Linked DNA regions of Homo sapiens. The protein of the gene in region 3 purifies or fractionates together with the protein of the main gene of each other region. This does not show direct contact. Each region holds a gene or a part of one and is shown on either strand. Other genes may lie near its edges. The genes, in order: MTCH2, TF, SLC38A6, CNNM1, UBAC2, NPLOC4 and AP3S1.

Evidence for each region.
Region 1: the proteins of SLC38A6 (region 3) and MTCH2 purify together in Homo sapiens (affinity purification with mass spectrometry, with the first as the bait; one large-scale study listed by BioGRID). This does not show direct contact.
Region 2: the proteins of SLC38A6 (region 3) and TF purify together in Homo sapiens (affinity purification with mass spectrometry; 3 studies listed by BioGRID and IntAct, with this or other methods). This does not show direct contact.
Region 4: the proteins of SLC38A6 (region 3) and CNNM1 purify together in Homo sapiens (affinity purification with mass spectrometry; one large-scale study listed by BioGRID and IntAct). This does not show direct contact.
Region 5: the proteins of SLC38A6 (region 3) and UBAC2 purify together in Homo sapiens (affinity purification with mass spectrometry; one large-scale study listed by BioGRID and IntAct). This does not show direct contact.
Region 6: the proteins of SLC38A6 (region 3) and NPLOC4 purify together in Homo sapiens (affinity purification with mass spectrometry; 2 studies listed by BioGRID and IntAct, with this or other methods). This does not show direct contact.
Region 7: the proteins of SLC38A6 (region 3) and AP3S1 purify together in Homo sapiens (affinity purification with mass spectrometry; one large-scale study listed by BioGRID and IntAct). This does not show direct contact.

What each region holds. Positions count from the first base shown.
Region 1 is NC_000011.10:47,629,060-47,632,559, reverse strand, and holds part of MTCH2 (mitochondrial carrier homolog 2), read left to right. Parts: intron 1-848; coding exon 849-906; intron 907-1,472; coding exon 1,473-1,524; intron 1,525-1,945; coding exon 1,946-2,005; intron 2,006-3,500. UniProt on the Homo sapiens protein: Protein insertase that mediates insertion of transmembrane proteins into the mitochondrial outer membrane. Catalyzes insertion of proteins with alpha-helical transmembrane regions, such as signal-anchored, tail-anchored and multi-pass membrane proteins.
Region 2 is NC_000003.12:133,773,893-133,777,392, reverse strand, and holds part of TF (serotransferrin isoform 1 precursor), read right to left. Parts: intron 1,961-3,500; coding exon 1,776-1,960; intron 345-1,775; coding exon 155-344; intron 1-154. UniProt on the Homo sapiens protein: Transferrins are iron binding transport proteins which can bind two Fe(3+) ions in association with the binding of an anion, usually bicarbonate.
Region 3 is NC_000014.9:61,047,245-61,050,187, forward strand, and holds part of SLC38A6 (solute carrier family 38 member 6), read left to right. Parts: intron 1-906; coding exon of another isoform or gene 907-911; exon of another isoform or gene 912-1,003; coding exon of another isoform or gene 1,004-1,035; exon of another isoform or gene 1,036-1,053; intron 1,054-2,071; exon of another isoform or gene 2,072-2,159; intron 2,160-2,744; coding exon of another isoform or gene 2,745-2,755; exon of another isoform or gene 2,756-2,943. UniProt on the Homo sapiens protein: Amino acid transporter with an apparent selectivity for L-glutamine and L-glutamate. May facilitate glutamine uptake in excitatory neurons. The transport mechanism remains to be elucidated.
Region 4 is NC_000010.11:99,381,356-99,384,855, forward strand, and holds part of CNNM1 (metal transporter CNNM1), read left to right. Parts: intron 1-3,500. UniProt on the Homo sapiens protein: Probable metal transporter.
Region 5 is NC_000013.11:99,340,354-99,343,853, forward strand, and holds part of UBAC2 (ubiquitin-associated domain-containing protein 2 isoform 1 precursor), read left to right. Parts: coding exon 1-212; intron 213-3,500. UniProt on the Homo sapiens protein: Restricts trafficking of FAF2 from the endoplasmic reticulum to lipid droplets.
Region 6 is NC_000017.11:81,630,613-81,634,112, reverse strand, and holds part of NPLOC4 (nuclear protein localization protein 4 homolog), read left to right. Parts: intron 1-3,500. UniProt on the Homo sapiens protein: The ternary complex containing UFD1, VCP and NPLOC4 binds ubiquitinated proteins and is necessary for the export of misfolded proteins from the ER to the cytoplasm, where they are degraded by the proteasome.
Region 7 is NC_000005.10:115,900,935-115,904,434, forward strand, and holds part of AP3S1 (AP-3 complex subunit sigma-1), read left to right. Parts: intron 1-1,950; coding exon 1,951-2,058; intron 2,059-3,500. UniProt on the Homo sapiens protein: Part of the AP-3 complex, an adaptor-related complex which is not clathrin-associated. The complex is associated with the Golgi region as well as more peripheral structures.

The DNA.
Region 1 (3,500 bases), on a different chromosome or scaffold from region 3:
GGTGAAACCGTCTCTACTAAAAAATACAAAGAAAAAAAATTAGCCGGGCATGATGGCGGGTGCCTGTAGTCCCAGCTACTTGGGAGGCTGAGGCAGGAGAATGGCGTGAACCCGGGAGGCGGAGCTTGCAGTGAACCGAGTTCGCGCCACTGCACTCCAGCGTGGGTGACAGAGCAAGACTGTCCTAAAAAAAAAAAAAAAATGCAAAAGCCAATGGTAGACCTGCTTACATTTGCAATCCCAGAACCTAAATGCAAAGATTATAATTTAATTTTCTTTATTACTTCCTTACAGAGCCCTAGAGTAGAAAGATAAACTAGGAAAAACACAGCAGCTCTAAGATACTGCACAGTTACTGGGTTGTAGTCACAAAACAAAATTGTTCTCTTCTCCCAAAAATGTGAGTAGAGACTAAATGGAGCCTGTCATTTATCTAGAATGATGTCAGACTCTCCAAAATCACTTACCAATAAGAGAGCAACTTAATAATCTCAATAAAGGCCTCATATTTTTTATTTCAGCTTAATGACTTTGTTGGTGACCTTTCCTGTTTCTTTATTTTTTTCTCTTACCTGTAAAATTGAGAAAACAACAGAAGCCTGCTTTGCAGAGAAATTTTGAGAAGTAACTATAATAGAACATTGAGATCCATGAGTGAAAAGTATGATAAAATGACAATGAATGAGATCTTTCACATCCCATTCAAACTCTTCTTGACTCCAGCCAGGGCAGGAGGGCTGTGTCATTCACTTTCTTATCCTATACCACGATATCCACCCACATTCCTTCTCACAGGCATTTGAGTGTCATTTGTTTAGATTTCAGAAGTGTGTGTTGATTGTTTCTAGACAACTCGAGAGATGATCGCTCGTTCTGCTGCTACCCTCATCACACATCCCTTCCATGGTATGTTTGCAGTTGACAACTGACCTTTCTTTTATAACCTGATCTCTCCTGACCACTTAGATAGGTTGACGTGGGAGTTGACTAAAATGCCTTGCCTGCATGTTTTTGTTTGCTTGCTTGTTTTGGCTTTTATCCAATTTATCCAGATAGCAAAATGTCTTTAGGTGGAAAATCTTTTTTTTTCCCAGGGCTATCAAAATCTATCTTAACATAGTTTTTTTTTGTTTGTTTGTTTTTTGTTTTTGAGACGGAGTTTCACTCTTGTTGCCCAGGCTGGAGTGCAATGGCACAATCTTGGCTCACTGCAACCTCAGCCTTCCGGGTTCAAGCAGTACTCCTGTCTCAGCCTCCTAAGGAGCTGGGATTACAGGTGCATGCCACCACGCCTGGATAATTTTTGTATTTTTAGTAGAGATGGGGCTTCATCATATTGGTCAGGCTAGTCTTGAACTCCTGACCTCAGGTGATCCGCCCACCTCGGCCTCTCAAAGTGCTGGGATTACAGGTGTGAGCCACCGCACCTGGCCTTAACATAGTTGTAAACATCTTTTCTCTATATTCCACAGTGATCACTCTGAGATCTATGGTACAGTTCATTGGCAGAGAATCCAAGTACTGGTAAGTATTTTTGTTTTCACATACTCAAGGAGATCTTTTGAAGCCAAAGTACTAGAATAATACTACTTTGTATTTTTATGATACCCTTACAATTTGTAGAACAAATTCGTATCTGATGTCATTTGATCTGCACAAAAAACAATAAAATGGGAGAAAATATACCCAGGCAGGTTTAGTAGCCTACGTAGGATTTCAGAGTAAGTTGCAGAGCCCCTGACTCCATATGACTATACCCCTAGGTAGTTAATATTTTCACTTCTATCTCCAAATTTAGCTATCTTTGCAGAGTGAGAGAGTGCTAGAAAAGTGTGAGGGAAGGAGGTCGTGGATTTGACCTTGTCCAATGTGATAATTGAAATTATTTTGTTTATAGCTCCAAAAGAATCTTAATATATTTTACCTTTTCTTCTTGTGTACGTAGTGGACTTTGTGATTCCATAATAACCATCTATCGGGAAGAGGGCATTCTAGGATTTTTCGCGTGAGTAAATGTTGATTAGTGTGTAATTTTTGCATGAGTGGGAAACGTTTTCTGAAAGTAAGAATAGTGAGTCTTTGTTTAATCCTTGGGGAAAACGTACTCCCTGGGCTTACCTCACGTTACATTCTATTTAGGCCCCTTATTTTTTTTTCTTTTTTCTCTGCAGAAAGGCATATTTAGGCCCCATATGACTAGAATTATCTTGTAAAGATCCCAAACCTTTACTTCTAGATACTTAAAACATTTGAGGCCGGGCGTGGTGGCTCACGCCTGTAATCCCAGCACTTTGAGAGGCCAAGGCGGTTGGATCACCTGAGGTCAGGAGTTCAAGACCAGCCTGGCCAACATGGTAAAACCCCACCTCTAGGTGTGGTGGTGTGTGCCTGTAATCCCAGCTACTCGGGAGGCTGAGGCAGGAGAATTGCATGAACCCGGGAGGTGGAAGTTGCAGTGAGCTGAGATTGCACCACTGTACTCCAGCCCGGGTGACAGAGTGAGACTCCGTCTCAAAAAAATAATAATAATTAATAAATAAATAAGGAATTTCTTTTTTTAACAAAGGACTTAATTCCAAGTTTCTACCCTTGTAGTAAACTCCCAATTCTATATAGATAATAAAATGAGAAAAATTAAATGTTGAAAAATGGGGAAATCATCTTAACTTGTATTTTCCTTACCGTAAAAGAGTAAGTTTTTGCAAGGCTTGAATTTACTTTGGAAGAACTTAGACTACTACCCTCATTCTTCTATGAGGAAAAATTTTGCATCATTACCGAAATGGTGTTTTTTGTTTTTTTTTTTTTAATTTTCAGAGTATCTCCCCATACGGATTTTGAATATCATAAATACCCTGTGAGATAGGCAGGACAGCTATAATTAGTATCACTTTAGAGATTAAAAAACATTGATGCTCTGAGAGTTTCATCTGCTGCCTGTCACATCGCTGCTGAGTGCTGGAGCTGGCATTTGAAGCTGGTCTTCAATCCGTGGGGAAATGCTCTTCCCACTATTCCATGCTGCCTCACCTAGGTCACCCAGACCCTAGAAATGTGGTTTTTGATGCCTCTCATCTGTATCTGTACTTGGGACCATTCTTGCTTTGTAATTTTTCTCGTCTTTTGCTCTGCCAAATATGAATATCAGATAGCTTAGCAAAATCATTTTTTTAAGCTAGTCAAAGCAAAACAATATTTAAGTCTCTTCTGCAAAGCACCTCGCAAATCTTTTGCCTCCCTGCTTACAGTTATGAATAGTAAGGTGAGCCACTGAGGGTATAGCCGACCTGCATTTTAAACATAGGAACAAAAGTCACTGGAGATCAGCTTCAAGTACAGCTGTGTTAACGAGAATGAACTAGGTATGCGGGCTGGATTCTGGTGTTTGATTCCTTTTTTACTTCCCTAGAATGTTTTGTGACCTCTAATTATTTGACAAACATTTGTACTGAAGAGCCTGTCATGTTACTGATCACATTTTTTGGTTCTTATTTTTATTG
Region 2 (3,500 bases), on a different chromosome or scaffold from region 3:
TACATGCCGGGCTTAGATTGTTCACTCACCATTTCATTTTGTCCATGTTGTCCTATCCCAAGGGCCACAGCCTACCCCTCCTGTACCCACCCACCATCCCAGCACTCACCACCATGTTTGGTTGCCACTTCCCCATGCTGTTCCTCCTACTCACATGAGGTGGAGCATTTTCTCAGGTTACCAACAGCCTTGACATATTCTTCTCCTAAGTATTTTTCATATGTGTTTCTGTCATGAAGTTTGGCCAAACATACTGTGTCATCTCTGAACAGAAGGTCCTTGGTTTCCGACCGGAACAAACAAAAGTTGCCCGAGCAGTCAGTTACGTTGCTTCCAAATAGGTGCTGTCAAGTGAACAGAAAGTCCGTGAGGACCTTGTGGTCTTTAGCAGCTGGGAACACATGGATGAGAAGAGTCTGAAAGCTCTGAACCAGCCCTGGGGAAAAAGGGAAGCTACGGAGTATGTCTTGGGAATTTTCCACCTCCTTTATCTGCCATTTATCCACTTAGGGCCCCAGCTGCATGCTTTCATGATGCCCCCAAAATCATCTATAGGGTCCCTGGTCCCACCTTCCTCTGATAAGTCCCTCCCACCCACACCCATGCCTGCCTACTCTGACCTCTCTTCCCCACTTCATTGCCCTTCACTGGGGGCTGCTTATAGGAAATGAGAGGACAATAACATGTCCCTTCAGATGTTATTGTCAAAGAAGATGTTAAATGTGAACCCTCCCAGAGGAGTGGCAGAGGTAGTTCTTAAAAGTTCATGTTTGACTGCATTTTGAATCCTTTCTTGGGCAAGCCACTCAGCTTCTCCAGATCTCCAAAGGTTGTAAGTGAAATGATGACTGCAAAATGTTGAACTTTCCATATAGCAGCTAGGAAATGTATGTTAAATGCTTATTATTGTCATGTACCTTAAAAGGACTTCAAATATACTCTTATTTTTTTTAAAAAAAGGTAATGGTGAATCAACAGCAGGCAGCTATGCCCAAAAGGAAGGTGATGTGTGTGTGTGGAGGGGCCTTTAGGATTAGAATACTCAGGCAGCCCCTGTCTTCAACAAGGCTGGCCCTGAGTGGTTGTTCCCCCAGAGGGCAGGCTCTCCGAGGGCAAGGGTCCTGTGTTTTTCAGACTGTTGAGAACAGTGCTCAGTCTGCCTAGGCAAGAGGAACAGAAATCCACTCTTCATGACTCGTATCAACAAGCGCTGGGAAACAGGAGCTGTCTTCTTCATTTTCGGGAAGGACAGGAGTAGGGGAAATGAGGGTACCCCTGAACAAGGTTAGGGGGAGCAGAAAGGCAGATTCCTAGTCCCAAGAGTACATGGATCAGATCTAATCACCAGTGACCAGGAGCTAGAAGCAGAGCTGGGCCTGAGAGGTCTAGTTCCATAATTACACAGCTAACATATTTTGAGCACGTCCTATAGGAAATGGAATTTTCCTATGCCGTTTGGGTGCATGTCTTCACTTAATACTCATGTTAACTGAGAAGTAGGTAAAAATATTATTATTACAATTTTATATATGAGGAAGCTGAGGCATAGAGAGGTTATGTAACATACCCAAGATGGCACAACTAGGAAGCTGTGGAGCTGTGATTTGAACCCTGATACTCTAGTCCACAATGCATGGCATGAAATGCACAATGCATGGAATTCTAGTTTTCAAAAAGAAAGTGCTGGAGTCATGGCTGCACTTTGTTGTAAACTCCCCCCGAATAGCCTATGGCCATCTAGGAAGAAAAGGTGGGAGGACCTGGCTGGTCCATACCTGCTGTTGACGTAATATCTTGTGGACGCAAGCTTCCTTATCTTTCCGTGTGACCACAGCGTGATTCGGGGCTCTGGCCAGGTGGCAGTTCGCATACTCCTCCACAGGTTTCCTGGTACCATCAAGGCACAGCAACTCATAGTCTTTTTCATTCAGATTCTTAGCCCATGGATCAGGGTTTTTTCCTAGGGACAGGAAGAAGGTGGTTCAGCTGATGGCTTTGGTCAAGGTGCCCCGCTGGGGAGATGGAACTGACTCAGTGGTGTGTAGAGAACCTGGGCCTTCTCGCCAGCAGAAGTGCCCACACTGGGGTTACAGTGATGTGGACAGGAAGAGACACCCATGTGGTCTACAAGGTGATGCCAGACTCACAGTGACCAGGAATGATTATTGACCATCCCCTTCCAACCTTCCCTACCCAGCCAGGTGAGAATGAACTACATTCTGCAGATGCTGTTCAAAAAGATCTTCAATTCCACTAAATTCCAATTCCTTCTGTACCTCTTGCTCCAACAGAGGAAGAATGTGACGCTCTAAGCCAGGTTGATCAATTTCTGTGCTGTAACACATGGCATCTCCAAACAAAAGAACTTTTCCTCAGAGAACACCTTTGGAATCTGCACCAGAATTTTAAATCTGACTCCCTTGTTCCAGTTCTAAATGAGAATGTGCACACACCTGTGTGATACAGGTCTGTATCCCATCTCGGCCCCTTTGCCTCTTCTTTTCTGTATTGTCTCTGAAAAAAAAAAAAAACTCACCCATTCTTAGGGTTTCAGCTCCTTCCTCCTGAGCCACTTTGCAAATATGTTTTGCTAATTTTTATTTCTCTCCCATAATTCAGAATTGCAACCTTTTTAAAAATGTATTTTTCATTTAATTTTGTTTCTTTAACCGAATAACTAATACATGAGATCACACTCATAAATTTTTGAATATCTCTCTATATTAACTAAAAGCCTCCTTTCCTATACTCTCCAAATCTCACTCAGTCTTATAGTGCTAGTCTTTAATATCACATTTGCGAGTTTCCATCCACGGCTCATTATATGTATTTTTCTACGTGTGTATATGGATTTCACATGTTTCTAATTTTGTTTAGTGTTAGATCTTGACAAATGTAAAACTCTGTAGCTTTTTTTTCAACTGTTTACATACCTTATAGATTCTTCTTGTCAGTACATACAAATCAAGCTCGTTCTTCTTAACTACTGTATTATATTTCATAGTGTGGCTATAATAGTATCTTTAAACCATTCCTCTTTTAATAGGCATCTGAGGTGTTTACAATTTTTTGCCACTAAAGTAGCGTTAAAATGAGTGTTACTGGCATATAATTGTGCTTACATAGAAGTGGAATAGTTAGTTCAAAGGGTATATGTATTTTTATTTTATTTTATGTTATTTTATTCATTTATCTATGATACTATGTTCTCAGCCCTCTCCAAGGCACAATCTTATTGGAGGGGAAAATAACACACATACCAAAACAAAAAATTCAGGGCAGGGATAATAATATTTTATATTTTGTAAAACACTCTAGATGCTGTGTGAGCTCAAACCAGGGCTTTGAGAACAAATGAATTAAGAAGCTGGCTGGAGGAGGCAAGATTTCAGTTGTCTCTTATAGTGTGTGTAGGATGAGAGGAGGAGAAAGGAATGCCTCTCTGCGGGAGGAAAGGAGAGTGCAGGCGAGACTGGGGGCAGGTGTGTGCCTGGTGTTTC
Region 3 (2,943 bases):
GCTGGCTGAGAAATTGTTAGATGAATCACCATTAGGTGCTTAGAAACTGTATTAAATTGTAGCTGTATTAGATTGAAAGGGATGTGGAGGAAGGATGGAAGCTAATACATTTATTGAGCTAACATTTAAGACAGTGTCAGGTATTTTATATATACTCCCTAACTTAATCCTTATAACAATTCTGCAAGCTCAGTGTAGGTTCATTTAGGTTGAGTAATTAGACCAGATACTTGAAGCCAGTTAATAGTGGAATTGGGATTTGAATCTAGTTTTGTCTCTCTCCAAAGCCAATGCCTTTATTACTGTGTTGTCTACTCAGAAATTGTGCTATAGAAGCCAGATTTCCTTTATTCCAAGTTTTTGTTAAGGTGATCTTTTAGAAAAATATGACTCACTTAAGCTCTAGGCATCTATCTATGTATGTATCTATGTATAATCTATCTATCTAACATTGCTGCTTGAACACAAAGGCTAAAGGTTTTCATCATGTAGATGGCATGTTTCCTAGACAGGGATTTGTCTAATATCAAGTAAAACCATTATGTTGTCTCTGATTTAATCTCTTCTCCACTAATGCAAATTCTTCAGAGTATGCAAATTTTATATAATAGAGAAATACACATCTAAGAAAATCACATGGTAGGTAGGTATATGATTGATTAATAGGTAGGTGGGTAGGCAGATAGATGGGTGGATGAATAGATGATAGATTAGATAGATAGATAGATAGATACATACATACATACATACATACATACATACATACATACATACATACATACATAAATAGAATAAATGATACAAAAGTAGTAAGTTCTTCTCCAAAGACAGAAGAGGCAGATATTGATTTGCTCTTGGATTGTGAATCATAACCAAGAAAAACCTTTGATCATATCTTTCTACCAGGATAACAGGAGCTTTGTGTCATAGGAAGAAATTGCTGGTTGAACCTGAGATCTTATAAGGGCTAGCCTCAACTTAAGGCTTCCAATTCATTTTACAGATGAACAACTAAAGCCCAGAGAGGTGAAGTGACCTGTCACAGAATTAAAGGCAGGTTTCCTGAATACTAATCCAGTGTTATTTCTGCTACTTTGTGATAATCTTTGTAAACTTAATACCCTGTTTGACAATGTGTATTAAACAGGACAGCCTCCTGACTTCAATGGCATATATAACTTGCAGAGATCACCATTAGGCCCTTTCTGAGATTTGTAGAGATTTGTCTGAATCCAGGGAAGCATGCACCACTCTATCCCTCACATATGTTATGGCTCAGTTAAGAACACAGAGTGACTGGCTCAGAAGAAGTGTTTTCATCCTGGGAAAGTAGAAAGTGGACATGTGACATCTATTTTGAATTTGTAATAAATCTAGTTCTTCAAGATTCAGGAGCTGCTTTGGATCCTTTTATCCAGAGCTCCTAAAGTTTAATTTCTAAATTTGTCAGATTAAAGGGACTTATAGGTATGTACCTAGATTAATGATACTTGCTCTGATTACAGCTGTGAAAGGAAGAGAAAAGGGTTCCTCTGGTGAGCCAGGCCAGTGCCCAAATGTTGCATAATAACCAGGCCATTTAAAAAGTCTATGAGGTTGTTAAGCAAGAAGTGTTAATAGCTCATTTTATGATTCAGAAAATGGAAATAAAATAGTTTGCCATATTTCTCCAAAGACTCACAAGTATCTCACAGATTTGGAAATAGAATCCAGATTTCCTGGCTCTTCTTAGTCTCCTACTTAGTCCAAATCCCACATTGTGTAAAGTATGTTTTTGATACTTTGGACAATTCATTTCTCTCCTGTTTCCATTATCACTAGTCTAGTTCAGATTCTCTTTACCTCTCAGTGATTGTAACAGTAGCTGTTATGCCTGTTTGGGGTCTCTTTTTCTTCCAATCCGTACTCCTGCTTTAGTTCAGATCATAATACACTGTTCTTTGTAAGTCATTATTGCATTTCTGTGGCCTACCAGGTTGAGGCCACATCTCATGCAGAACTGTATTACTAGGTCTGAAATGCATTTCCAGCCCTATCACCCACACACTGTTTCATCCACTGTAGTACTTACTAGACCACTTATTTTCTCAGATGCACATTCCCTTTGCTTTGTTTGTGCTGCTCCTTGCTTCTAGAGAATCTCTTCCCCCACATCTTTGAACATCAGCACACATTCATTGACTCATGTAATGTTCTCAGTAACCCTATAGTTTAGTATATGGCCATCCCCATTTTAAAGATGTAGGAACTGAGAGACTCAGTGTAAGTTGCTAGTTACTGGTGGGGTTTGAACATGTTCTATGTCATCACAGTTTAGAATCTCCATAGCTCTTGTTTAGAACTCTCTGGCCACTTACATGTGTATATCACACTTTCTATCATAGCTATGTGTATTCATCTCATCTCTTCTTAAAGTTCCCTGAGAACAGAGGTATGTTTCCTTTTGTTTTTGGTTTCCCTCAAAGTATCCTTTCTGAAACACTCTCAAATTAAAAGGCACCATTCTATTTTAAGTACAAACTGATATTTTCCCACAAAACACTGATATCCAGTGTTTCTGAGCACCCTCAGTCTTCTTTCCCCTTGTCTGGGTTGAGGTTAGGGAGACATTGTGAGAATGCAAGAACACTGGAGCAAAGCTTGGTCGGCATGTATAAATCCTATTGCTGACCACCACACACTGGCCTACTAAGTAAGACATTTCCCTAACACTTCTCTTTTTTTCATAAAACATGAATCCACAGATGAAACGTAACATGCACCAAGCTCTGAGATTCTAGAAAACGTTGTGGTATTGAGGAAAAGATGCTGTCTCTAGCACCAAAAAGAAGTAGGTGTATGGCACTGCCCCTTTGTGTTATGTGATCTTAGGCAAATCATTTAACACTTTTGGACCTACCTGCGTATTAATATTGTTATCATGGGGACTAAATTCAACAACAC
Region 4 (3,500 bases), on a different chromosome or scaffold from region 3:
GTGAGCCGAGGCCATTGCACTCCACCTGAGCGGCAAGAGTGAGACTCTGTCTTCAAAAAAAAAAAAAAAAGGAAAAAAAAGAGTGTTATTCAAAAACCTCTTTAGGCCAGGCGCGGTGGCTCACACCTGTAATCCCAGCACTTTGGGAGGCTGAGGCAGGCAGATCACTTGAGGTCAGGAGTTCAAGACCACTCTGGCCAACATGGCGAAACCCCATCTCTACTAAAAATAAAAAAATTACCCAGTCATGGTGGCAGGCACCTGTAATCCCAGCTACTCGGGAGGCTGAGGCAGGAGAATTGCTTGAACCCAGGAGGCGGAGGTTGCGGTGAGCCGAGATCGGCGCCACTGCACTCCAGCCTGGGCGACAAGAGCGAAACTCCGTCTCAAAAAAAAAAACCAAAAAACAAAAAAAAAACTTTGATTAAAATGGGTAGTTCTCCAAAAAGGAATTCTGTGAGTTCAAGCTCTTTTTTTTAACACAAGTGTCTTTTTTGTTTTGATTTTCTCTTTTCTTTTTTTTTTAATATAAGATTCTGCCTTAGATTAACTTTGAAAATTACCTCCTCCTGATTGATTAGACTGTGTTAGGGACGTTATTTAGGCCACTCATTTATCTACTTCCCTCACCTGTCTCTCCCCATCTTTCCTTCTGTTGTTATTGTGTTTTTTAACATGAGGGTTTTGGGGGAAGCTAAAGAGAAGACTGCAAGATGAGTGTTTTCACAGGGCGAAGCCCCTGTGGTTGGCTGCTGGAAGGTTTCTCAAGGGCTTTTTATATCCAACAGACTGAAGGTCCAGAATTAAGTCCAGGAGTAATTGAACTTCAAGATAAGTTACAAAATGAGATAGAAAGGTGCATCTAATAGTTATCTGGGAAAGGTGTTAAACAAAGCCATGATTAATGGTAGTTAATAAGTTATGAAGGTACCAAAGAATTCTTATGAAGTAAGTTTTTTGAAATGTGTTCTGTGTCATCATTAAGCTAAGACTACTTGGCAGATGTCTTACAGTCTGGACTACGTAACCTTGACCAAGATTCCTCATCACCCTAGATTGCAGCATTGTGTCTTCAGGGATGAATAAACCACTTGAAAGTGAAAACAACATCATACCATGATAGGAGGCCAGGTGCAGTGGCTCACACCTGTAATCCCACCACTTTGGGAGGCTGAGACAGGAGAATCACTTGAGGCCAGGAGTGTGAGACCAGCCTGGGCAACAAAGTGAGACCCCCATCTCTATAAAAATAAATTTTTAAATTAGCCAGGCATGGTGGCATGCACTTGTAGTCCCAGCTACTTGGGAGGCTGAGGCAGGAAGATTGCTTAAACCCAGGAGTTCAAGGTTACAGTGAGCTGTGATCATGCCACTGCACTCCAGCCTGCACAGCAGAGTGAGACCCTGTCTCTAAAATAAAATGACAGGAGACATCACATTAGCCTAAAGGTTAACTTCTGGACACCTTGGCTGCTAAGTCAAAAAGTCCAGAAAGCCACCCTTGCTTTTCACTACTTTCAGAATAAACAGACCTCCGCTTCCTTTGTAGCTTAGTGGGTGATTGGATTCTAAACTGGCCACTCTATAAGAGAAGACAATTTGAACTAAAGCTGTTGCTAATAAATGGTTATATCTACTGCAATGAAGAGGAAACAAAAACATGGAGTCTGTTGAAAAGTGGCTTGATTCCCTCAGTCAACTAATTGATAAGTATTTGTTAAGCATTAACAATGGTTCTGGGTGCCATGAGCTATACTACAGAAATATAAATCTAATAAAAATATATCCTCTGCCTTATAAGTAGATTAAGACCAGTTAGAGAGAGGAAGCTTAAGGTAAGTTAAATAATAGTGACCAATGCAGGGTACTATCTAATTCATTACAAAATTATGTGGAATTTTTTTTTGTTTTTTGACGGAGTCTCACTCTGTCCCCCAGGCTGGAGTGCAGTGGCGTGATCTTCTACCTCACTGAGTTCAACTCAGTGAACTCACTGCAACCTCCGCCTCCTGAGTTCAAGCGATTCTCCTGCCTCAGCCTCCTGAGTAGTCAGGATTACAGGCATGCGCCACCACGCCTGGCTAATTTTTGTATTTTTAGTAGAGACAAGGTTTCACCATGTTGGTCAGGCTGATCTCGAACTCCTGACCTTGTGATCCGCCCGCCTCGGCCTCCCAAAGTGCTGGGATTACAGGTGTGAGCCACTATCTGGAATTTTTTAAGCACTAATTGGCTGGAGAATGTACTTTAGGAGTTTGGAAAGAACAAGAGGAGAATTAAGGCAATGCCATGCAAAGGGACACCCTTAAACAGGTATGGAAGGCAAGTAGACATGGCGCATTCGAGGGACTGGGTAGAGAGAGAAGCTGGGTGGGACCAGTGGTTCTGTCCTGGTGAGTAGTGGGAGTGCTGTTGGCCCTGCGAGGCCAGGTCATCGAAACTGGGCACAGCTGTTTAGGCCGTCCACTAAACCTTCACCATCCAGTACAGCAGCCAGTAGCCATGTATAAATACAGCCATTTAGTTACATGTGGCTGTTGAATGCATGAAGTGTGTCTCTTTCCAACTGATGTGCTATAAGTGCAAAATACACATTGTATTTCAAGACCAGTGCGAAAAAGAATGTAAAATTCCTCACTAATCACTTTAACTAATCACATGATGATGTGAAATTATTTTGGATATATTGGGTTAAATGAAATATGTTATTAAAATTAACTTGTTTTTACTTTTTAAAATGTGACTACTAGAAAACTTTGAATTACCGACGGGACTCACGTTACATTTCTCTTCAACAGTATTACGCTAGATTAAAATAAGTTGTCATGAGTTGTTGAACAAGGGGAAGGAACTGACAAGAAGTGATACCCGAACCTAGAAATGCCTCTGGGAGAGGCAGAGCAGAGTTGCTTCCCTGGATACATTGGCACCTTGTCAACAATTTCTTTTAAGGCAACACATTGACATGGCAGGAGTTCATGATTTAAAAAAAAATTTTTTTTAAAAAGAGAGCTGTGTGAAAGAAAGCAAGGCTGTTAAGGCTGTGAGTCACATAGAGGATTTAGCCATTGGGTGGTACCTTTCCTTTTATATAAACACCCACCAACAGTGCAGACCCTCTCCAGCCCCTCCCCCTCCCCACCCTCACTGCCATACACTGCCGTGCTTCTTCCCACTAGTGTGGCCGTCTGAATCTTCTCTTTAGCATCACTGACAAGTGGTGGCTTAACATCTGTGTGAATGCCTCCAATGATGAGGAACTCGGTACCTCACGAGGAAGTGTGTCCCATTCACTCAGTATTGTTACCAAAAATACTTTCTTCCCGTCCTTTCCTCCCTGACAATGCTTAAAAAGAGGGTTAGAGTTCCTGGATCCTTGATTCCAGGTAACAAGAGGGGCTTATCATTGTTTTTTAAAAACAAAAAGAGGCCGGGTGCAGTGGCTAACACCTGTAATCCCAGCACTTTGGGAGGCTGAGGAGGGTGATGTCACCTGAGGT
Region 5 (3,500 bases), on a different chromosome or scaffold from region 3:
AGGTGCATCAGGTGCTCTGCATCCCCAGCTGGATGGCAAAATTCTTTTCTTGGACACTTGAACCCATCTTCTCTTCTTCAGAACCCACCAGCGAAGCCAGAATTGGGATGGGAGCCACGCTGGACATCCAGAGACAGCAGAGAATGGAGCTGCTGGACCGGCAGCTGATGTTCTCTCAGTTTGCACAAGGGAGGCGACAGAGACAGCAGCAGGTAAAAGTGATAATAATCACTAAAAATTTAGAAATTCTCAGTGGCCCAAGCAAATCTTTCCTCTGTGATTGCATGTGAGATAGAGACTACATTTTATTCCAGTGCCTTGCAAGTGGATTTTGACATTTCCAAAGAGATTGTAGGTCTCTGTTAGTGGCCATTCTTAGTTTTTTAAAAAGGTAAAAAATAAATTGCAGCTGAAAGATTGGTCAAACTGGACATTCTTGTTCCACCTATATTAGATAAGCATGACTTCTTAGAGAAACACCAACCTAGTTAACAAGATGTGCTATTTATCTGTTTTTATAATCTTGTAAAAGCCACAGTGTCTTCCTGTTAAAATGCTAATCATATGCTATGGAGTGAAGAACAAATGTAAAATTTCTTGATTTTCCTTGGTTGAAATGAAGAGAATATGAAGGCAAGAAGATTTTCAGTGGAACAACCAAGGAGTAGATAAAAAAAAATGCTGTGTTTTCTCAACCTTGCTATCAATAATCAGAAATTATTGCACATTTGTCTACAAATTCTGCATCCAAACAATCTGATACTACATTTGTCTTCCATGGGCAGTGAGAGAAGGAGGGTTAGTGCACATCAGGCTAAAACCTCAGGCCTGATCTTTCTTGGACACTTCTGTGAGCCAGCCCACAGGGCTCCCCATTTTTCGCCTCCACCTTCTTTACCCCTGGGGTAGTTGTAAACCGTACAGTTACCTCTGCCATCTCTCTGTCTTCCACTAGCATTGGATGCAAGAAGTAGGTCTGCAGATCTCACGATGGTTTGGAGAAGTGAAATCAGGTTTGAGGTCCTTAGAGTCCCATTGGAGATGCAGGTCCCAGAGTTTATATCAGGGGGGGGGAGGAAGGGGGCAGCTTATTAGGGGCAGAGTCTACAAGAGAAATAGAGAAGCAAAAGTTGTTTCTTAAAGATGTGCTTGAATTTGAGTGACTCTGGAACATGCCATAAAGATGCCCATGGTGTATTTAAAGCTGGAGGATGGACATCTCTGTCTTGGAAATGTGGAAGCTACATATATATATAGGTGATGGAGTCACCTCTGTAGGGATGAGAGCTGAGAGCCGAAAGCAAAGAAGTAGTAAGTTCTGTAAGAGAAGAGCTACATCCAAGATGAACACAGGCTACAGATGAAGCCTCGTATTTAGCAGGAGGTAAATCCTTCAAGGAAACTGAGAGAAGAGCGAAAGGTATGAGAAATCAGAATGATCAAGGTCAGAAAAACTGAGTAGTGATTGAGTATAAAGGTAGAGGCACAGAGCTTATGAGGGAGAGAAAGAAGTAGGGGATGGTTCTGATGTTTCTGGCCTAGATAATCTTAGATAGATGACTGATAGTTCCATTTCACCAATATCAAAAGAGCAGATTTGGGGGAAATATGTTGTCTGAGATACCTTTGGAATCCTGGGAGGAGATTCTCCATTGGAGAGCTTTGAATTTGTCCTCATAAGCAAACCAGAGAAGTTGCATTTCTCAGATTGGCCTCCCCAGGAAGATTTTTATACAAAGAGTTTATGAGAGAACACCGTCAGCATCAGTATCTATGGGGGCGGGCTGGCGAAGGCAGCAAGATGGGACAGAGGGAGCAGCTGCAGTTCCAGCAAAAGCCTCGCTGGTCTTATGGAGCACAGTGAAGCTGGGAGAGCCCTTCTGAGTTGTCCCAAAATGGGGACCAGTCCTGTTGGGTAAGTCCCATGCGTACGACCTCTTTGAACCTTAATTACCTCCTTAAAGTTCCTACCTTTAAATACAGTCACATCGTAGGGTTAGGGCTTCAGCGTGTGAATTTGGGGCAGGGGCAAGGGGTGGGAGACAGTGTGTTCCATAACACTGCAGAGTGGAAAGGGCCCAGCATAGTCTCGGCGCTGAGTGACTGTTCTGCTTGCAGACGGTAGTTATCAGGCACACACAGTCTCTGTGGATGCCAGGTTGGATGCTCCATAGTGGCAGGAGATAGGTCGGCCTAGGTGAGGGGGACCCACACATTCCTCTGTGCTACCACCATGGCCATCCATTCGTGTGCCAGCGCTGGGTTATCTGGTGATGGAGCCACAGTCATTCTGTCCACCTTCCATTTGGTGCCTTTTCTGTGGTGGATGCCCGTGGTGGGCACGACCTGCAAGACACTTGATGCTGTTCCTTTAGCTGGATCCTCCTTGTTCCCTCCCTTCCAGTCCCCTGACCGACCAACCAGGTGATCTGCCATGCCCAGCAGATCCACACGTGTAATTGCCTCAGGCCACTTCTCTTCACACAGAGTTGATGACCAAATGTGCTGCCCAGGCTCTGCCCATAGGGGGTTCCCCTGATCGCTGTCTTTCAAGATTGAGCCATCATGCAGCCGTTTCTTTCAGCTGCCACTCATGTCCTGAGCCAGCCTGTCCATTTGGCTGTTTTCCCCTCTGTCACTTGGTCATGAGGGGCCCACCAGCTGTGGTAGTCGGTGTTAGCTGGGAAGAGGCTGTGGTGCAGCAGAGGTGGCTGCCAGGGTGGTCTGGCATGCCTGCTTCTGCAGCTCACCCATGCCCTGCAGCCCCACCTATGCTGAGCCCAGATGCCCGTGTCCATCTGATGATGGGTTTCTGTCGGCCCACCTGGCTTGGTAACTTGGTGGGTCTCCACTGCTGACCACATGCTCACTTTGTGGCCTACAGACAGGCACTTCATGGTGCAGCAGCAGTTTATGCAAGTGGGATTCTTGGCTGTTTGCGCACGCCCTCGCTCCAGGATTCTACGGACCCCCATTGTGGTTCTCCTTTCCTGCCTTGCTGTAAACTCCGCACGGTGTCTTTCCCCCCAGATACTTGGAACATCACGGGATCTGCCAGGTTGTACCCAGGCCTCAGGGAATGAGACAGACCCAAACCCCTGCCCTGCTGGAGCGTGCATTCCCACCAGGCGCCTGTGAAGTGGCACAGGCCTTTATGGCTGTCTACACTGCTGTCAGACTCCTCCACTTTCATAGGATGGTCTCACTAACAGATCTGAAGTCCAGAGCAGGACACCAGCCCCTGGGCTCTTGCTGGGCTTTTACGTTGAGTGGTCTGCTGGGCAGCACAGACCAGACTCTTGATTTTTTCCTAAGCTTCCTAAGTTCTCTTCTAGGGTCCGCACATGGGTACACCCAAACCTGAGCACTTAGCCTCCTGCTGAACTTCTTCACTCAGCTGTGTCTCAGTTTTCTTCACATAAGTATGATAAATCACCACGTAGAGAACTCTTTTGTTAAACCACCACTGGAAATTATCTGCCGTATTTGTGTGCATGCAC
Region 6 (3,500 bases), on a different chromosome or scaffold from region 3:
ATTGCCTGAGCTCAGGAGTTTGAGACCAGCCTGGGCAACACGGTGAAACCCCACGTCTACTAAAAAAAAAAAATACAAAAAATTAACCGGGCGTGGTGGCGTGCACCTGTAGTCCCAGCCACTCAGGAGGCTGAGGCAGAAAAGTTAGAACCCGGGAGGCGGAGATTGCAGTGAGCCGAGATCGCACCACTGCACTCCAGCCTGGGTGACAGAGTGAGACTCTTAAAAAAAAAAAAAAAATTAGCTGGGCGCGGTGGCGGGCGCCTATAATCCCAGCTACTTGGGAGGCTTGAGGCAAGAGAATTGCTTGAACTCGGCAGGCAAAGGTTGCAGTGAACCGAGGTCGCGCCATCGCACTCCCACTCTGGGTGACAGAGCAAGACTCTGTCTTGGGGGGAGAAAAGAGTTTCTGTGGATTTAACTGTATCTCACCAGTTCTTCAACTTCCCCAAGAAGCGTTCTAGTCTTATTTTCTTATAAATAGGGAAACTTAAGTTACCAAGAGGCTGTGTGTTCATGTTGTCAGGTCTGTCTCTTCCTGTGTATTTCATTTTGTAGTCTGTGTCAGAGGCTAGGCCAGAACTTTCCATCGTACAAATTATGTTTGTCTCTTGTTAAATACTGGAGTTGGCCTTGGAAACCTGGACTCCCATCTTCTGTGGTAGAGGATCAAGTAGGATGACTTCTTCACCTTAGAATTCTGCAGCCTGAACCATTTAGCTCTGTAAAGAATGGCGGTAACATGCTCTTGTTCCAGAGTCATCGTTTGAAGGAACATTCACATGTTCCCCTTCATTAGAACAGAGCTTTCCTTTTTAAGATAGCTAAGTGTTGGCAGACAGATTTTAGAAACAAATAAGTGGAAGTATTTACCTAATGCTATATATTGTGAAAACGTTTTTCTGGGGTATTGAATCTAGAATGAAGTATACTAGACGTTAGAAGTATAAAGAATTGTATTTCTTTTCTTTTTTTTTTTTTTTTTGAGACGGAGTCTTGCTCTGTCACCCAGGCTGGAGTGCAGTGGCGCGATCTGCTCACCACAAGCTCTGCCTCCTGGGTTCACGCCATTCTCCTACCTCAGCCTCCCAAGTAGCTGGGACTACAGGCGCCCTCCACCACGCCTGGCTAATGTTTTGTATTTTTAGTAGAGATGGGGTTTCACCGTGTTAGCCAGGATGGTCTCAATCTCCTGACTTAAAAGTTGAGAACATATTGGGTGGAGCCTTTTCTGCCAAGTGAAAGTTATGGGAAAATGCAGGACAGGGTTATCCTATTTTAGGAAAATCTAGATTAGGCTTAGTTACTTTACTAAAAGCGGACAAATCCCAGTAGACTGAGCCTTTATGGTGTTTTGTCCTGTATCAGTGGAAATCTTTTTTAGACAATGGCTTGTGACAGTTTTCATCTGCATAATGGTTGAAGAGGATGTTTAATGTAACACTCGTGGTAACCTCACAGAAAATAGTTATAGAATTTATGAAAAAGGAAATAAGGGAGGCCGGGTGTGGTGGTGCACACCTGTAATCCCAGCACTTTGGGAGGCCCAGGTGGGTGGATAACTTGAGGTCAGGAGTTCGAGACCAGCCTGGCCAACGTGGTGAAATCCCATCTCTACTAAAAATACTAAAAATTAGCCAGGCGTGGTGGCAGGCACTTGTAATCCCAGATACTCAGGAGGCTGAGACAGGAGAATCACTTGAACCGGGGAGGCAGAGGTTGCAGTGAGCCGAGATCACGCCATTGCACTCCAGCCTGGGCAACAAGAGCTGAAAAAAAAAAAAGAAATAAAAAAGGAAATAAGGGAATTGAAATGTTTCACTATAAAAAATCAGCTAGGCCAGGGTTGGTGGCTCATGCCTATAATCCCAGCACTTTAGGAGGCTGAGGCAGGTGGATCACCTGAGGTAGGCGTTTAAGACCAGATTGACTAACATGTTGAAACCCCGTCTCTACTAAAAATACAAAAATTAGCTGGGCTTGGTGGTGCACGCCTGTAATCCCAGCTGCTCAGGAGGCTGAGACAGGAGAATCGCCTGAACCTGGGAGGCGGAGGTTGCAGTGAGTGGAGGTTGCAGTGAGCCGAGATTGCGCCACTGCACTCCACCCTGGGCAACGGAAAAAGACTGTCTCAAAAAAAAGAAAATTAGCTGGGTATGGTGGTGGGCGCCTGTGATTCCAGCTACTCAGGAGGCTGAGGCAGGAGAATCACTTGAACTCAAGAGGCAGAGGTTGCAGTGAGCCAAGATTGCGCCATTGTACTCCAGCCTGGGCCACAAGATTGAAACTTCATCTCGGGGAAAAAAAAAATGAGCTAAATACAAGAGATGGTAATGCAGGAAATGAGAGAGAAAGAAGCTATAGAATGCACCATCAGTCTTTGCTGAGAGGAGAAGCTAGGACACTTATGCGCATGTTCCTGTCTGCCTTCCTTCCCGTCCCGCGGATGGTTGGAGCAGGTCTTTGTTTGCTGCAGAGCATGCCATGTCATCCTCCTTGTCTAAAGCAGGGGCCTGTGCTGTTGGCCAGGCATGATAACTCACCTTCACGATGGCTTTCATCAGCATAAACATCAAGTTGTCTTAGAAAGTAATGCCCTTTGTCCAGTAGTCTTCCAGATCTGCCAACCTTTTTAGGCTTGCCGTGGGGGAAAAAAAAAAAAAAAAAAAAAAAAAATATATATATATATATGTACACTTTAATATGCATATATGCACACACACGTTATTAAATTAGGATGGGGTCTCGCTGTGTTGGCCAGGCTGATCTCGAATTCCTAGGCTAAAGAGATCTTCCTGCCTTGGTCTCCTGAAGTGCACAGATTATAGGTGTGAGCCACTGTGCCCAGCTGAAAATATTTTTTCAAAACCCTACTAAATTTTACCATTAAAGACCTTTATTGCTTTTAATTTTAATTTCTTTTTTAAGTTTAAATTTTTACTTTTTTTTTGAGACGAAGTCTTGCTCTTCGTCACGCAATGGCACGATCTTGGCTCACTGCAACCTCTGCCTCCTGGGTTCAAGCGATTCTCCTGCCTCAGCCTCCCGGGTAGCTGGGATTACAGGTGCCCGCCACCACGCCCAGCTAATTTTTGTATTTTTAGTAGAGACGGGGTTTCACCATGTTGGCCAGGCTGGTCTCGAACTCCTGACCTCAGGTGATCTGCCCGCATTGGCCTCCCAAAGTGCTGGGATTACAGGCAGGAGCCACTGTGCCCAGCCTAATCTCTTTTTTTGAGACAGGGTCTCACTTTGTCACCAATGCTGGAGTGCAGTGGCACCATCTTGGCTCACTGTAGCCTCGACCTCCCTGGTTTAAGTGATCCTCGTGCCTCAGCTCCCCAAGTAGCTGAGACCATAGGCGTACGCCACCATGCCTGGCTAACTTGTATTTTTAGTAGAGATGGGGTTTCCCCATGTTGCCCACTGGTCTTGAACTTCTGAGCTCAAGTGATCCACCGCCTTGGCCTCCCAAAGTGCTACAATTACAGACGTGAGCC
Region 7 (3,500 bases), on a different chromosome or scaffold from region 3:
GCTTGCTTCTCTGACAGAGATCAGTGAGAGATCTCATTATAAAAATATGTGTCTAATAATTAATGTTGATTCACTGTTTTAAATTTTTATATTTTTGTTTGTTTGCTCTTACCAACACAGTTTCATTTATCACTGTCATATGTATATCAGGCACCAGTCTCTTTTATGGTTTTCCTAACTTAATTTCTCATTCTTTCCTTCCTCTAACTTTCAATTCTTTATTTTCTTGCAGAACTGCGAAAATTAATGTATATAATATGTTCTCATTTGTGTAAATTAGATATGCATATACACACGTATAACAAGTATGTGCACAGCAAGTTTTCTAGGATACCTAAGATATAGCTAGCTGAGTAGCTTTGGATAAAGGGACCTAAAAACGGATGCAGAGTGTGGTAGAGACTATTGTTGTTCATACATAAGTTTCTGTATGAACTTTTAGTCATTTGCCTATATTCTTTTTTTTTTTTTTTTTTTTTAAGTTACGGTAGTTTTCAAAACACTGTCATGTCTGGTTTGGTTTGGTTGGCTAGGAAGATTAATTTATATAAATTTGTCTTCAGAATTTGTGCATGAGGTGTCCATGCTTCCAAAATGAAAAATAGTAAATAATGATGACTTTTTTTTTTTTTTTAATTGAGGCAGGGTCTCACTCTGTTGCCCATGCTAGAGTGCAGTAGTGTGATTTCAGCTCACTGCACCCTCCACTTCCCGGGCTCAGGCAGTCCTCCTGGGTCAGCCTCCCGAGTAGCTGGAAGTACAGACGTGAGGCACTATGCCTGGCTAATTGTCTGCATTTTTTGTAAAGGCAGGGTTTTGCCATATTGCCAGTGATCTGTCCACCTTGTCCTCCCAAAGTGTTGGGATTACAGGTGTGAGCCACCATACCCAGCCTCCAGGGATATTTTTTAAATTATGAATAAATTTGCGTGAAATCTTACAAAGAAATTTAAATTGAGTAATACATATTTAACTCCTAAAAAGAGTTTGTTGAAAAAAAAATTACCGTATAATACCTAGTGGTTCTATGCTAAGCACTTACATAAATTATTTATTTAATTGTTATGGTAATCCTATGAGGTGCCTATATTATTTCTGTCTCTATTTCGTAAATAAGGTAACAGACTCAGAGAGCTGAAGTAACTGCTCAAGGGCTACAAGTAATAAGTGGTAGAGTCTGTATTCATACTTATCTAATTTTGGAGTCTCCATTTCTAACCTTACCACATTATTTTAAAAAAATTATAGCAGAATAGATTCTTCTGTGAAATGTAATTCAGTTCTGAATTGTTGATTTTTTGATCCAATAATACCTTATGAAAAGACAGAAGTTATATTTTTACTCCCCAATGGAAGACATCATTTTTAGTCATTGTAAGATGTATTTATTAGAAGAAATCTGAATATTACATGTGTAGAGGATTTGGGGGTAAAAACACTATTAAAGTACCCACAATTTAAAAAATTCTACCTTTTTCCAATCTAGAGCCTGTTAGAAGTACTGTACTACATTGCTTCATTAAGTACCATGAGTGTAAAATAATAACCTAATTATTGTTGGCTAAGAATCTGGCATAAAAGGCTCTTATAAATCATATTTTAGTATTAAACTTCACATAATAATAATAATAATGGTAGTTAATATTTACTAGTCATTTACTTTGTTTTGAGTACTGCATTGGATTACCTTGCTTATTCCTTTCAACAGTCCTATGAAGGTAGTACTATTGTTTTTGTTTTATAGCCCATTAAGCTCAGACTTAAGGAGGTTATATAACTGCCTAGGGCTTCACAGTAGTGATGAAAGTGGATTATGAGCCCTTACTCCAAGTTGTTTTTACCACTCATACTTTTAACATAGACAAAGTGGTATTTGAAACAAAAAGTGAATCATGAAACTTCTTTTTAGTGAATTTTCTTTATGGGTATATATTCTTTTATTCCCTTTAGGTTCACAATATTCTTGCAGAAATGGTGATGGGGGGAATGGTATTGGAGACAAATATGAATGAGATTGTTACACAAATTGATGCACAAAATAAGCTGGAAAAATCTGAGGTAAGAATGGAAAATGCTGTAGTTAAGAAGGTTCTAAGCATGATGACAGATTACGCATGATTTGTAGTTTTCACTGTTTGTCCTTCAGTATCACCCTTTAGGTTCAGCCGTTATGCTTATTCAGTTTTTAAAAAATGGAATATACACGTAGTATGCTAAAGGTTCTGTGACTGTTCTCTACCCAACAGCTTTGTGTATTCTTCTTTTAGCCACAGTCATAGCTGCCTTGGGTAATAAGCACAATTCCAAATCTTATTGCCTAAAAGAATTATCTGAATAATGGAATCTAATATTTGCTTTGTAAAACTTCAGTCGGTAATTATCAAGGAAATCTTAGAACTAATATTTTAAAGATATATAAATTTTGTGTTACAAAACTACTTCTGGAAAGGGAAAGGACAGGAAATGGAATTCTTACAGGGAAGTAAGTAATGTTTCAAGTTATTAATAAATGCAAAATAAATATTTTGAATGTTTGAGTTCACATTCAAAAAAGAAATTCAATACCTTAATCTTTTAATTCTAAATCTTTCCCTAAGATTTCACTGACAAGTTAGTTAAGTCACATATTTTAGACATTAGTACATATATATCCATGGTCTTTATTGCATTCTATAAGATCGGTTTGTTATACTTAGCTAACTTTCTGCTGTTAGATTCAACCTTAGATGGGATAAATGAGGAACAGCCAGCACTTTAGCATTGTATAAAACCCTACTTCAGAATTGTAGTGACTCTTCCCTCAAGCACTAGTCTGAATATCAGTAGCAGGTGCTGTAGCTGAGCCACCTGGGTTCACATTATTTTGGTTGTTTATTACCCTAGCAGAGGTTTAGAAAGATCAGTAGTTTTATCATTTGAGTTCAGGAGTTCGAGACTAGCCTGGCCAACATGGTGAAACCCCATCTCTACTAAAAAAATAAAAATAAAAAATAAATAAATTAGCTGGGCACGTAGAGCGCACCTGTAATCCCAGCTACTCGGGAGGCTGAGGCACAAGAATCACTTGAACCCCGGAGGTGGAGGTTGCAGTGAGCCGAGATCACATCACTGCACTCCTGGGCAACAGAGTAAAACTTCATCTCAAAAAAAAAAAGAAAGATCAATAATTTTGATATCTCATTCACCACCCAACTTGTTTGAGGATACTCTTACATTTGGTATTTGCAGTCATAACTCAGATTGGAAAAAACAGACTTTATTTTTATAATTATTAGTGTTAAGCTCAGATGTTTCGTTGATTTAAAGTAAATATTACTTTGAAAGCATCAAGGTTTTAAAAATACACTGGCATTAATTTACAACAGGTGAGTTCTGAAAAATTTTACCTTGTTGGCATTTTAAAGGATCAGTTTAACTCAATTCAATTCTGTGTCCATTTTAATTGAAGAAAACACAGGGTGAAGAATAAATCTCAAATCTAGAAACAGTTGAAGCTTATA